3 linked regions of the Homo sapiens genome follow. The protein of the gene in region 3 purifies or fractionates together with the protein of the main gene of each other region. This does not show direct contact. Each region holds a gene or a part of one and is shown on either strand. Other genes may lie near its edges. The genes, in order: DBT, LGALS9 and FAHD2B.

What was found.
Region 1: the proteins of FAHD2B (region 3) and DBT purify together in Homo sapiens (affinity purification with mass spectrometry; one large-scale study listed by BioGRID and IntAct). This does not show direct contact.
Region 2: the proteins of FAHD2B (region 3) and LGALS9 purify together in Homo sapiens (co-immunoprecipitation; one large-scale study listed by IntAct). This does not show direct contact.

Annotation. Positions count from the first base shown.
Region 1 is NC_000001.11:100,208,279-100,211,929, forward strand, and holds part of DBT (lipoamide acyltransferase component of branched-chain alpha-keto acid dehydrogenase complex, mitochondrial isoform 1 precursor), read right to left. Parts: intron 2,847-3,651; exon of another isoform or gene 2,762-2,846; intron 2,494-2,761; coding exon 2,416-2,493; exon of another isoform or gene 2,415-2,415; intron 1-2,414. UniProt on the Homo sapiens protein: The branched-chain alpha-keto dehydrogenase complex catalyzes the overall conversion of alpha-keto acids to acyl-CoA and CO(2).
Region 2 is NC_000017.11:27,634,169-27,637,819, reverse strand, and holds part of LGALS9 (galectin-9), read right to left. Parts: intron 1-3,651. UniProt on the Homo sapiens protein: Binds galactosides. Has high affinity for the Forssman pentasaccharide. Ligand for HAVCR2/TIM3. Binding to HAVCR2 induces T-helper type 1 lymphocyte (Th1) death.
Region 3 is NC_000002.12:97,092,776-97,096,526, forward strand, and holds the start of FAHD2B (oxaloacetate tautomerase FAHD2B, mitochondrial), read right to left. Parts: upstream 2,108-3,751; 5' UTR 1,926-2,107; exon of another isoform or gene 1,807-1,925; intron 1-1,806. UniProt on the Homo sapiens protein: Tautomerase that converts enol-oxaloacetate, a strong inhibitor of succinate dehydrogenase, to the physiological keto form of oxaloacetate. It is thereby required to maximize aerobic respiration efficiency by preventing succinate dehydrogenase inhibition.

The sequences.
Region 1 (3,651 bases), on a different chromosome or scaffold from region 3:
TCAAGATATCTCCTTTGTATATGCAAATATTCCATAATCCAAAAAAATCTTAAATCCAAAAACGCTTCTGGTCCCAAGCATTTCAGGTAACGGATACTTAAACTGTAGAGACTTTCTGGAGAACATATGACAACATGAACCAACATTTATAAAAATTCGTGTTAAGGAACTAAGTGCAGAAGTATGTAGGGATACACAGGGATGTTGAGTACACACTGTTTATAAGTTTGAGAAACTGCAAATAATCATGATGTTTATAAATAGGTCACTGGCTAAATAAATAACAAAGCTATACTTGTTGACAATGATGTCTACAATATAGTAAATGAAAATGAAGAGGCTGGGCACAGTGGCTCATGCCTGTAACCCAGCACTTTGGGAGGCTGAGGTGGGTGGATCACTTGAGCCCAGGAGTTAGAGACCAGCCTGGGCAACATGGCAAGACCCCATTTCTACAAAAAAAAAAAAAAAGTACAAAAATTAGCTGGGCATGGTGGCACGTGCCTATAGTCCCAGCTACTCAGAAGGCTGCGGTGGGAGGTGGACACTGCAGTGAGGCGATGATTACACCACAGCATAGATATTCTCTATGGGGAATACTTTAGATAGGCAACAGAGCAAGACTCTGTATCAAAAAAAAAAAAAAAAGAAAAAGAAAAAAGCAAGTTAAAGAAAATATAAATAATTCTATATCTTGTAAAAAGTATGTAAAAATGAAATCCTAGAAAGATGTATATCTCAACATAAACAGTGAGCTATCTTAGGGTCATGGAATTGAGGGTAAACATCTTTGTTTTCTTTTTTCTTTTCTTTTCTTTTCTTTTTTTTTTTTTGACAAAGGCAGGGTTTCACTTTGTCACCTAGGCTGGAGTGCAGTGGCATGATCACAACTCACTGCAACCTCCATCTCCCAGGTATCATATGATTCTCCTGCCTCAGCCTCCCAAGCAGCTAAAACTATAGGCATGCACCACCATGCCTGGCTAATTTTTTTTTTCTGTAGAGATGGGGCCTCCTAACTTTGTTGCCCATGCTGGTCTTGAATTCCTAGGCTCAAGCCATCCTCCTACCTCTGTCCCCCAAAGTGCTGGGATTACAGGCAGGAGCCACCACACCCGGCCAACATCATTTTCTTGCCTGAAATTTTTTTAATAAGTATATACTTAATCAGGAGATATTAAAATTAAAATTAATACAGCTGACTGTATTAACCGTATGGGAGCTGACCTCCCAGAATATCTAAGCTCACTTTCTGGTTGTACATGTCTTTTCTTTTTTTTCTTTTTTTAATTCTCTTTTTGAAATGGAGTTTTGCTCTTGTCGCCCACGCTGGAGTGCAGTGGCACAATCTTGGCTCACTGCAACCTCCGCCTCCTGGGTTCAAGCAATTCTCCCACCTCAGCCTCCTGAGTAGTTGGGACTATAGGCGCTGGCCACCACGGCTGGCTAATTTTTGTATTTTTAGTAGAGACAGGGTTTCACCATGTTGGCCAGGCTGGTCTCAAACTCCTGACCTCACATGATCCACCCGCCTCAGCCTCCCAAAGTGCTGGGATTATAGGCGTGAGCCACCGTGCCCAGCCTCTGGTTGTGCACTTCTAATGATAAGTAAACTTCAGGAAAGGCATCTCAAAAAGAGTTTTCGGTCTTAAGAAACTTTCACTACTCACAGAAGAGTTTACTCAAATTGAATTCAAACTTTTATTATTTTTCTCACTTAAATTATTCTTAATATTAAAATTCCAGGAATTTGCCAGGCACAGTGGTTCATGCCTGTAATCCCAGCACTTTGGGAGGCTGAGGCAGGAGGATTGCTTAGACCAGAAGTTCAAGACCAGCCTGGGCAACATAATGAGACCACGTCTCTACAAAAAATTTAAAAATTAGTTGGGCATAGTGGCGCATGCCTATAGTCCCAGCTACACAGGAGGCTGGGGCAGAAGGATTGCTTGGGCCTGAGAGGTTGAGGCTGCAGTGAGCCACAATCACAACACTGCATTCCAAACTGGTGACAGAGTGAGACTCTGCCAATAATAATAATAATAATAAGAAGAAGAAGAAGAAGAAGAATAAGAATAATAATATTAAAATTCCAGGAATTCAATTTTGAAAGAGCTGCTTCTTTTTGAGAGGGTAAGTAGAGTGGGTAACATAATCTGCCATACAGCTATGTATTTCCATTATTTTAAGCAGGAAAAAAAAAAGCTTAAAAATAGTTTTAAGAATCTCTAAACAGTATTATTAACACAAAAACAACAACAATGAATTAGACTTAAGTTTAATGTTTTACCCCATACCTTTAATTCTAGTCTAAAAAAGATCACTATTTGAGGTACAATAGAAGTCTCTAATCTACAAGCACATTTGCCCCATCTTCTATTAATAATAAGAACATTTTTACTCTGCATAGCCAACCTTATATGTTATATTCTGGCAGTTTTCATCCACAGAAGCGTTAAGGATAGGAAACTGTAGTAATCCCAAGGAAGCAGCCTGTTTAACAGAAAAAGAATGCAATTTTAGTACTTTTAACTTAGAAAGGATAGAGAATTTGAAACAATAAGAGGTATAAAAGGAGGGAGAGAGAGAACTCTTATTTATGCTGAGTTTAATTTCAAGTCTACATGTACCTAGTCACATTACTGCCAATGTTACCTTCAGGCCATGTGGAACTAGGTCACCCTAATCATTAAAGAATAAAAGATAAAGTAGTCAGGTAGCTTGTAAACATCAAGGAGATTTTCAAAATAATGATACAGACCAGCCAAAGTTCCAAAGAAAATGTCTAAATTCTAGGTGATTTCCTCACTGACATGTTGATCTTAAGATTTCCATGAGAAGTAATACTAGGAATCAAAACACAAAAAAAGCAGGTAAGCTATTTCTCTGTGTGGAAAGAACACGTAACGAGGATTTCAAAGCGCACTGACCAGTAGATGCCAGTTTGCTACTTGGTGTCCTTGGCCAGCTGAAGGGCAGAGATGTCCTGAACATTTACTTTACAGCTCAAGTCTCACTGAATAGCATTTATATTTTCCCTCTCTGCTGCCTTCTCCCTTTTGTCACTTAATACCATTTCTCTCCTGTCCATATTCAGATTTCCCTAACTGTACCCAAAATGTTCTTGATAATCTGTTTTTGGGATCTAATAATCAAGTTTCATACCTTACATGTGGTGGCCATGCATTGTATTGAATTTAAAAGATAGCAAAATAAAAATGCTTAAGATCATTCTTAAAAAGAATTCCCTCCCCCACTGCCCTTGTCTGGTCCCTGTTAAAGTTCTTTACATGCATTGTGTTATTCTTCTCAGTGCATCGGGGTCTTGATGGGAAAAAAATCAAATTCTTGAACTAGAGAGTTAAGAAAAAAGTTTAAATATATAGAGACATTTCATTTTCATTAGTTAGGACAGGTTAAGAGAGTAGATCAACTGAAGAAAAATATAATTAAAAGAACTGCTACGAGTTCCTTAATTTTTATGACTTGGAAGTTTTTCTTGTTTGTTTTTGAGACAGGGTCTTTCTTTGTCACCTAGGCTGCAGTGCAGTGGCATGATCTCAGCTCACTGTAGCCTCAACGTCCTTGGCTCGAGTGACCCTCCTGCCTCAGCCTCCCGAGTAGCTGGAACTATAGGCGTGTGCCACCATG
Region 2 (3,651 bases), on a different chromosome or scaffold from region 3:
TCAGGAAGCCCAAGGGACCAAAGGGACCCATCAAGGGTCTGGAGGGTAAACCTTCGACTCACCCGAGGAGGTTAAGAAGAAGCCATCCCCCTCTCCCCACCACCACCATATAACAATGGCCACTGTGACCTTTGCCCTCCTGGCCACCTTCAGCAGAGCGTCTTCCCAGATGCCTTCTGTAGCCGTGGGGCAGCCCCCTCCTCTATTTCTGTGCCCGGGCTCCCCATTCCTTCCCTCAGGCCCTCAGCAGCCCCGAGGCCTAGCGTGGTTTCCCCACCCATCCCAGGCCCCACGGGCAACCACTTTGTCAAATTCTCTCTTCTGGTGCTCTTTAAAGGAGTGATGGGCCATGGTGAGGCATGCATCGTTTTAGAGTCAGGCCAACTCCAGGTCTGAATCCTAGCTCTGCTGCTCATGACCTGAGTGACCTTGGGAAGCCTATTTCACCTCTCTGTGCCTCAGTTTCCTCATCTGTAAAATAGGAAGGTGTTTCACCTGCTGCATATGATTGATGATTTTGTGAGAAACAGCCTGTGGTAAAAGAGACTGGCACATAGGAGATGCTTCACCACTGTCACCCACCCCCCACCTTCATCTCTCTCAGCAAAATTCACAAACTGGTACTTCCAATTTTCAAAGTTTATTCCCAAAATGCTTCATATCCAATGTCGTTCTATAACCCGCATTAAAGCACAGTTCTATCTCCTGGCTGATTTTCACATTCTTCAAGTTTTTAATGTCTTCTCTAATATCTCCTTTAGGTCAATTTCCTACACAAATTAAATGCCTAAAGGAGCCAGGCAGGTGATGTGTATGGGTGAGATGGCCAGGTGGGGGAGTGGTGGGGACTGTGGCAAAGTAGATGTCACACCCCTCATCTGAAAAGTCAACATCTACTCCGTGCTAAGCAGTGATTGCCATCTGGGCCCAGTATTGGCAGAGCTTCCAAATTTTTAAGAGAAGACAGAAGTCCGGATTTTTTTTTTCTATAAAACTTTCTAATTTCTTGGGGGAAAATTTGTCAAAAAGGATTATGTAAAAGCTCCTGGCTGGGCACAGTGGCTCACATCTATAATCCCAGCACTTTGGGAGGCTGAGGCAGAAGGATCACTTGAGCCCAGGAGTTTGAGGCCAGCCTGAACAACGTAATGGGACCCCCATCTCTACAAAAAATAAAAAAAAAATAGCTAGGTGTGGTGGTGCACACCTTTAACTCTAGTTACTTGGGAGGCTGAGGTGGGAGGATCCCTTGAGCCTGGGAGGTGGAGGCTGCAGTGAGCCATGATCACACCACTGTACTCCAGCCTGGGCAACAAAGTGAAATCCTGTCTTGAAACCCCCCAAATTCCCATATTATAGAGATACAAAATGAAATATTTGAAATGGAATGGTATCTTTGGATTTGCTTCCACATATCTGAGGGTGGGAAGGAAGCAAGCGAGGGAGGGTATAGGATGAAGCAAGATAGGCCTGAGTTGATCATTGTTGGAGCAGAGTGATGGGTGTGTGTTGTTGATGGTACAATTCCTTCTGCATGTTTGAATTTCCTATAATAAAACGTTAAAAGAAACACTGTGCAGGCCAAACAGAAAACACCCACCAGCCAAATTCAGCCTACTTGCCACTGCTTTCTGGTCTGTATTGTTGAGTTGTGTGACCACACAGAACCCTGGGAAACCCATCCTAGCTCAGTGTACACACCTGGCACCGTGAGAGCCCCAGGAAATCTGGGATCTGATTCAGTTAGACTCTGCTCCCCATGGATTTGAGGGGGGTGTCTTTTGTTGCCCCTCAGGTCAGGTCTGAACTCTGCCATTAAGTACTTTAGTGACCTCAAGCAAATCACAGCTTCTCTGTGTCTCTGACTTCTCATTCTTGTCCCTGTCTACACCAGCAGTGTAGGGGAAGGAGAGTCAGCCTGATCCAATTATGGACCAGCACGGCCTAGGATTGGGAAGCCTGTTTTCCCTGAAACATGTCTGTGGAACATTTTTCTCCTTGCCTGTTTGTGGAAGCCTGTGATTCTCTCCAGAGCCTTTCATACTATCATGAGACACAACACTGAAAATACACACCCTCCTGGGAAGCATGCGGCCTCCACTTAAGTGTATTCACAGCACAGCATCTAGAATTGAAGGCAGAGCGTGATGGACATGGGCTGGCAAGTACACACAAGGCTTAATTAAGGAAGCCAGGAGGGAGAAAGAGGAAGTACAGATCATGGGGGCGGGACAGGACAGGCTAATCTCCAAGGCAACAAGTTCCCCAAAAAAGCTCTGTGAGGTTTCAAAATATCTTAAATAGTGCCCCCAAAATTCGGAAAAACAAGATTATTTATTTATTTATTTATTTATTTATTTATTTATTTATTTATTTAGAGATGGGTTCTCACTCTGTTGCCCAGGCTGGAGTTCAGTGAGGGCTGTGATCATGGTTCACTGCAGCCTCCACCCCCTGGCTCAAGTAATCCTCCCGCCTCAACCTCCCGAATAGCTGGGACAAAATAGGTGCAGGCCACCATGTCCCACTAATCTTACAATATTTTTTGTAAAGATGGGGTCTCTATGTGTTGCCTGGGCTAGCTCAAGTGATCCTTCCGGCTCGGCCTCCCAAAGGGCCAAGATTTCAGGCATGAACCATCATGCCTGGCCTGAAAAATGAGTTTTTAAATTGAATATCATCCTACAAACAAGGTTATTCATTGCAGCATTATAACACAAAGGATTATAAAGCAAAGCATTGGAAAGAGCTTAAAAGTCCTCTGACAGGAAAAAGGTGAAATAAATTAGGGTATTTCCATTTAATAGGTTCTGTGTAGCCTTAAAAAGAAAAGAAAAAGAGGAAGACAGAACTCTGAGCACTGATATGGAATGATGCCATTTGTATAAAAAGTGGGTGGGGGAAGTCTATGGACTTGCATTTATTTATTTATAGATAAAATATATCTGGAAGGATTTATAAGAAACTTATAACACTGGTTACCAGTGGGCCACCCCCCAGAAACATCCACATTCGAATCCCCGGAAACTGTGAATATGTTGTAGAAGGGACTTTGTAGATGTGATTAAATTAGTAATTTTGGCATGGGGAGATTGTCCTGATTTTAAAGGTGGTCCCAATGTGATCACAAGGATCCTATAAAAGGAAGGCAGGAGGATCAGTGTCAGAGGTAGGAGATGTGACAACAGAAGCACAGAAGCAAGAAGAAGCTGGTTTGCGTTTTTGGGGGGTTTTTGTTTGTTTTCGTTTTTTGTTTTTTGTTTTTTTTGAGACAGGATCTCATTCTGTCAGCCAGGCTGGAGTGTGTTGACGCGATCTCAGCTCACTGTAGCCTCCACTTCCTCAGGCTCACGTGACCCTCCCACCTCCGCCTCCCAGGTAGCTAGGACTACAGGCATGCACCACCACACCTGGCTAATGTTTGTCTATTTTTTGTAGAGACGTGGTCTCACTTTGTGGCCCAGGCTGGTCTCAAACTCCTGGATTAAGGAGATCCTCCTGCCTCGGCTTCTCAAAGTGCTGGGATTATAGGCATGAGCCACTGGGCCCAGCCAAAGCTGCTGGTTTTAAAGATGGCAGGAGGGGTCATAAGCCAAGGCCTGCAGGCAGCCTCTAGAAGATGGAAAAGGAAAAGAAACAGATTTTCCCCTG
Region 3 (3,751 bases):
GCCTGGCCAACATGGTGAAACCCTGTATCCCCTAAAAATGCAAAAAAATTAGCCAGGACTGGTGGCGGGCACCTGTAATCCCAGCTACTAGGGAAGCTGAGACAAGAGAATCACTTGAACACAGGAGGCAGAGGTTGTAGTGAGCCAAGAACATGCCACATCCCTCCAGCCCAGGCAACAGAGCGACTCCAAAAAAAAAAAAAAAAAAAAAAAGAAATTATCCACAGAGCTCAGGTCCTGTTTTGAGTCCAAGGCTCCACTTAAAGACAAACACTATTCTCTTGTTTTGTTCTGAATCCAAGTCTGGCCACTATTCCTTACCACATGGTGCCTTCCCTGAATGGTTCCTTGCTCTTCCAACAAAGGCAGTTTGTATTGTACAGCCTTCTATGCCCAAAAATGTTGAGGCAGCTGAGCCCCAGACTCTTGGTCCTCACTTGGAGATTCAATCTGCCTTGTTCAGTTAAAGACTCATTAGACTTAGGTCACCACTGTTGTGGCCCGCCAGTTTGACTAGAAAACAGAGTTTTGACTTCTCTGCCCTGCTATCTTACACAAGCACCAACTGTGCCACTGTCAAAAGGCTGTTCGAGCCAAAGTGCACACACTCAGACACTCCACATGCTAACATAACAGTAACTGCTGCCGCTGAATGCCAACTATTAAGTGCTCTACCTACAATGTCTGATTTAATTCTTTTTTTTTTTTTTTTTTTTTGAGATGGAGTCTCGCTCTGTCGCCCAGGCTGGAGTGCAGTGGCGCAATCTTGGCTCACTGCAAGCTCTGCCTCCCGGGTTCATGCCATTCTCCTGCCTCAGCCTCCCCAGCAGCTGGGACTACAGGCGCATGCCGCCACGCCCGGCTAATTTTTGTATTTTTAGTAGAGACGGTGTTTCACTGAGTTAGCCAGGATGGTCTCGATCTCCTGACCTTGTGATCCGCCCACCTCGGCCTCCCAAATTGTTGGTATTACAGGAGTGAGCCACGGCGCCCGGCCTGATTTAATTCTTGACGCTTGTGGAAGGTAGGTACTGTTAGTCCCATTTTACAGATGAAACAGTTAAGGCTTAAAGCGGTTAAGGGATTTGCCCAAGGTTACACAGTCTTAAAGCTAGGAGGGGAGGGAGCTGGGATGTGAATCCAAGTCCAGGTGACATTGAAGTCCTTGGTTCAGAAGCCTGTAATGCAAGCAAGAAAATCTAGCTTCAGCCCCATCTTCCTACCAAGGACATTTTAACCCAGAATGTTGTGGTGAGAAGTGGGGACCTTCCATAGGAAATCCTCCAAAGGCCCTAAAGATTGTAGTGAGAAGTAGGGACCTCCCACAGGAGATCCTCCAGAGGCCCTGCAAACAGCCATGCGTGGGGAAACTACAGGCGCTCTCTGGCTATTGCCTCAGGGACGAGGCTGGTTACCAGCTCTCCAAGAGAACTCCAGGCCCCATTGACTGTTCCCTTCCCACATGACACACACATGCAGGTTCATTCCAACCTTACAGCAATCCCCTCAGGTAAAGCGCCCTCACTTTACAGAAGAGGACACTGAGACTCAAAGGGATGACGTCAGGTGCCCAAGGTACTAGTCAGAAAGTGGCCCTGGGGCTTCTGCAACAACCACTATGTCACACAGTCCGAGCTCAATCCAACTCTGCAAGAGTCCATAAGCAAAGGGGCGGCGACGTGAGGTGGAAACAGTAGCCTGAAACGTGGGTGTGCACGTCGGATCCCATCCCACCGTCCACTCGCCTGGAAACCCCCAGTTTCCCCATATGCCCAGCTTCGTCCCCTGCAATTAGTGAGGGCTCACATGGGTCCGCCCCATCCGTGTGGTCGGAAACGGCCGGGAACCTGGTTCTAGTTCTGCCCTCCGCGGGAGACCTGCGCCAGGGACACCCTTCTGGCCTAACCCAGCCAGGCCTGGTCTACCTGGCGGCGGCGGCGGCGGCAGCCGGTCCTCCTGCGCTGAGTTAGGGCTCGCGGGGCGGGAGGTCAAGGGCAGCGGGCGCCTGAGCACTGGCACCAGTCACCGCATCCAGCCGGGGAACTACAGCAGCGGCGAAGTCACTGCCGCTCGGTGCGCACTCCAGCGAGAAGCGGGCGCGTCCTGTGACGTCACAGGCAACCACCCCTAGCAGGGCACCAATCCCGGAGGGCGGGCCCAGTGCGGGGCGGGCGGCGCCGGGGGCTCTTCAGGCTCAGGGCATAGGCAGGCGGCGGCCGCGTTTTCTGGAGACGGTCGCTCTCGGAGGGACCCTGCAATTGCCCGAGACCGAGAGTGGGCGCTGCCTGAAAGTTTGTCCCTGGGCGCTTCGCTGGCCTCATCCGGTCTCGGCCTTGTTCTGGGCCTGGCGCCTTTCCCATTGTTGGGGAAAGTGGTCTAGGAGACCAAGGCAGCGTGCTGGGTGGGAGAGAATGATTTGTGGCTTCTGATTCTGACATATGTCGTTAAGGAGGGGAGGGATGAGTGACCCTGTTTTACTTATGGAGAACCTGGGGCCAGAGCTGTTTTCCCAGGGTGACACAGGCGGTGAGTAGTGGAGCTGGCATTCCTGACCCCAAAGCTCAGCGTTTCCCAGCCACTCTCCGCAGCCAGGCCTTCACCTGCACTGCTGGGCGCAGGTGGGGAAGTGGGGAAACGGTGCTCCATCCCCTGCAGAGGGCAGGCGTGCGGGGAGCGGTGGCTGAACTCCACAGACAGCTACTGCTCAGCTCTTCAGCTGCCGGCTTTGAAGAGTGTGAGGGGCTCTGGGCAAGAGGCCCCCACATTACTCAAGGACCAGATCATCAAGAGCTTTACTTGTCCCACAAAGGAGTCTGGACCTCGTTTAAGTGCACAGGAGACCGCTGGAAGGTCCTCAGTGGCGTGCCATGGCCCGACTTCTATTTGAGAAGTTTTTCTCTGGCCACCCGTCTAAGGAAAGGTATCTGGGTGGGTGGTGCGGGTGAGAACAATGGTGGTGCGGTGCTTGGCGGAGAAGGTGAGTGTCCAGAGATGTTCAGGAAGAAGAACTGACAGCTCTGGATGACAGGAGGTGGAAGTGAGAAGGAAGCAGGTACAAGGCCGGCTCCTGGGTCTCTAGCCCGGTAGGTGCAGGGCCGTTCATGGAGACAGGGCTTCTGGAGGAGCAGCGGGTCTGGGGAGATGATAGTGAGCTCCAATTTGCATGGGACATCCAAAGGGCATTGAACGGTGGGCAGTTGGAGACGTGGGTCTGGAGCTTGGGACTTCAGCCTAGCTTGCAGAAAGTCACCACTGATATAGAAATGGAACCTATGGCCGGGTGCGGTGGCTCACACCTGTAATCCCAGCACTTTGGGAGGCCAAGGTGGGCGAATCAGATCAGGAGATCGAGACCATCCCGGCCAACATTATGAAACGCCGTCTCCACTAAATATACAAAAAATTAGCCGGGCGTGTTGGCGGGCGCCTGTAGTCCCAGCTATTCGGGAGGCTGAGGCAGGAGAATGGCCTGAACCCGGGAGGCAGAGCTTGCAGTGAGCCCAGATCACACCACTGGGGAACAGAGCGAGACTCTGTCTCAAAAAAAAAAAAAAAAAAAAAAAGAAATGGAGCCTATGGGGGTGGCTGTGATCAGGGGGATGTGCTGAGGAGAACCTGGCGTAAGTGTTTCATTAAGCCATAGCTCCCAAAGACTTTCTGAAAAGCTAAGTTACAGCCTGAAAGAAAAGATCTTCAGAGGCTATATTTGATAAAAGACTTGTATCCAGAATATAGAAAGAGCACTTAAAAT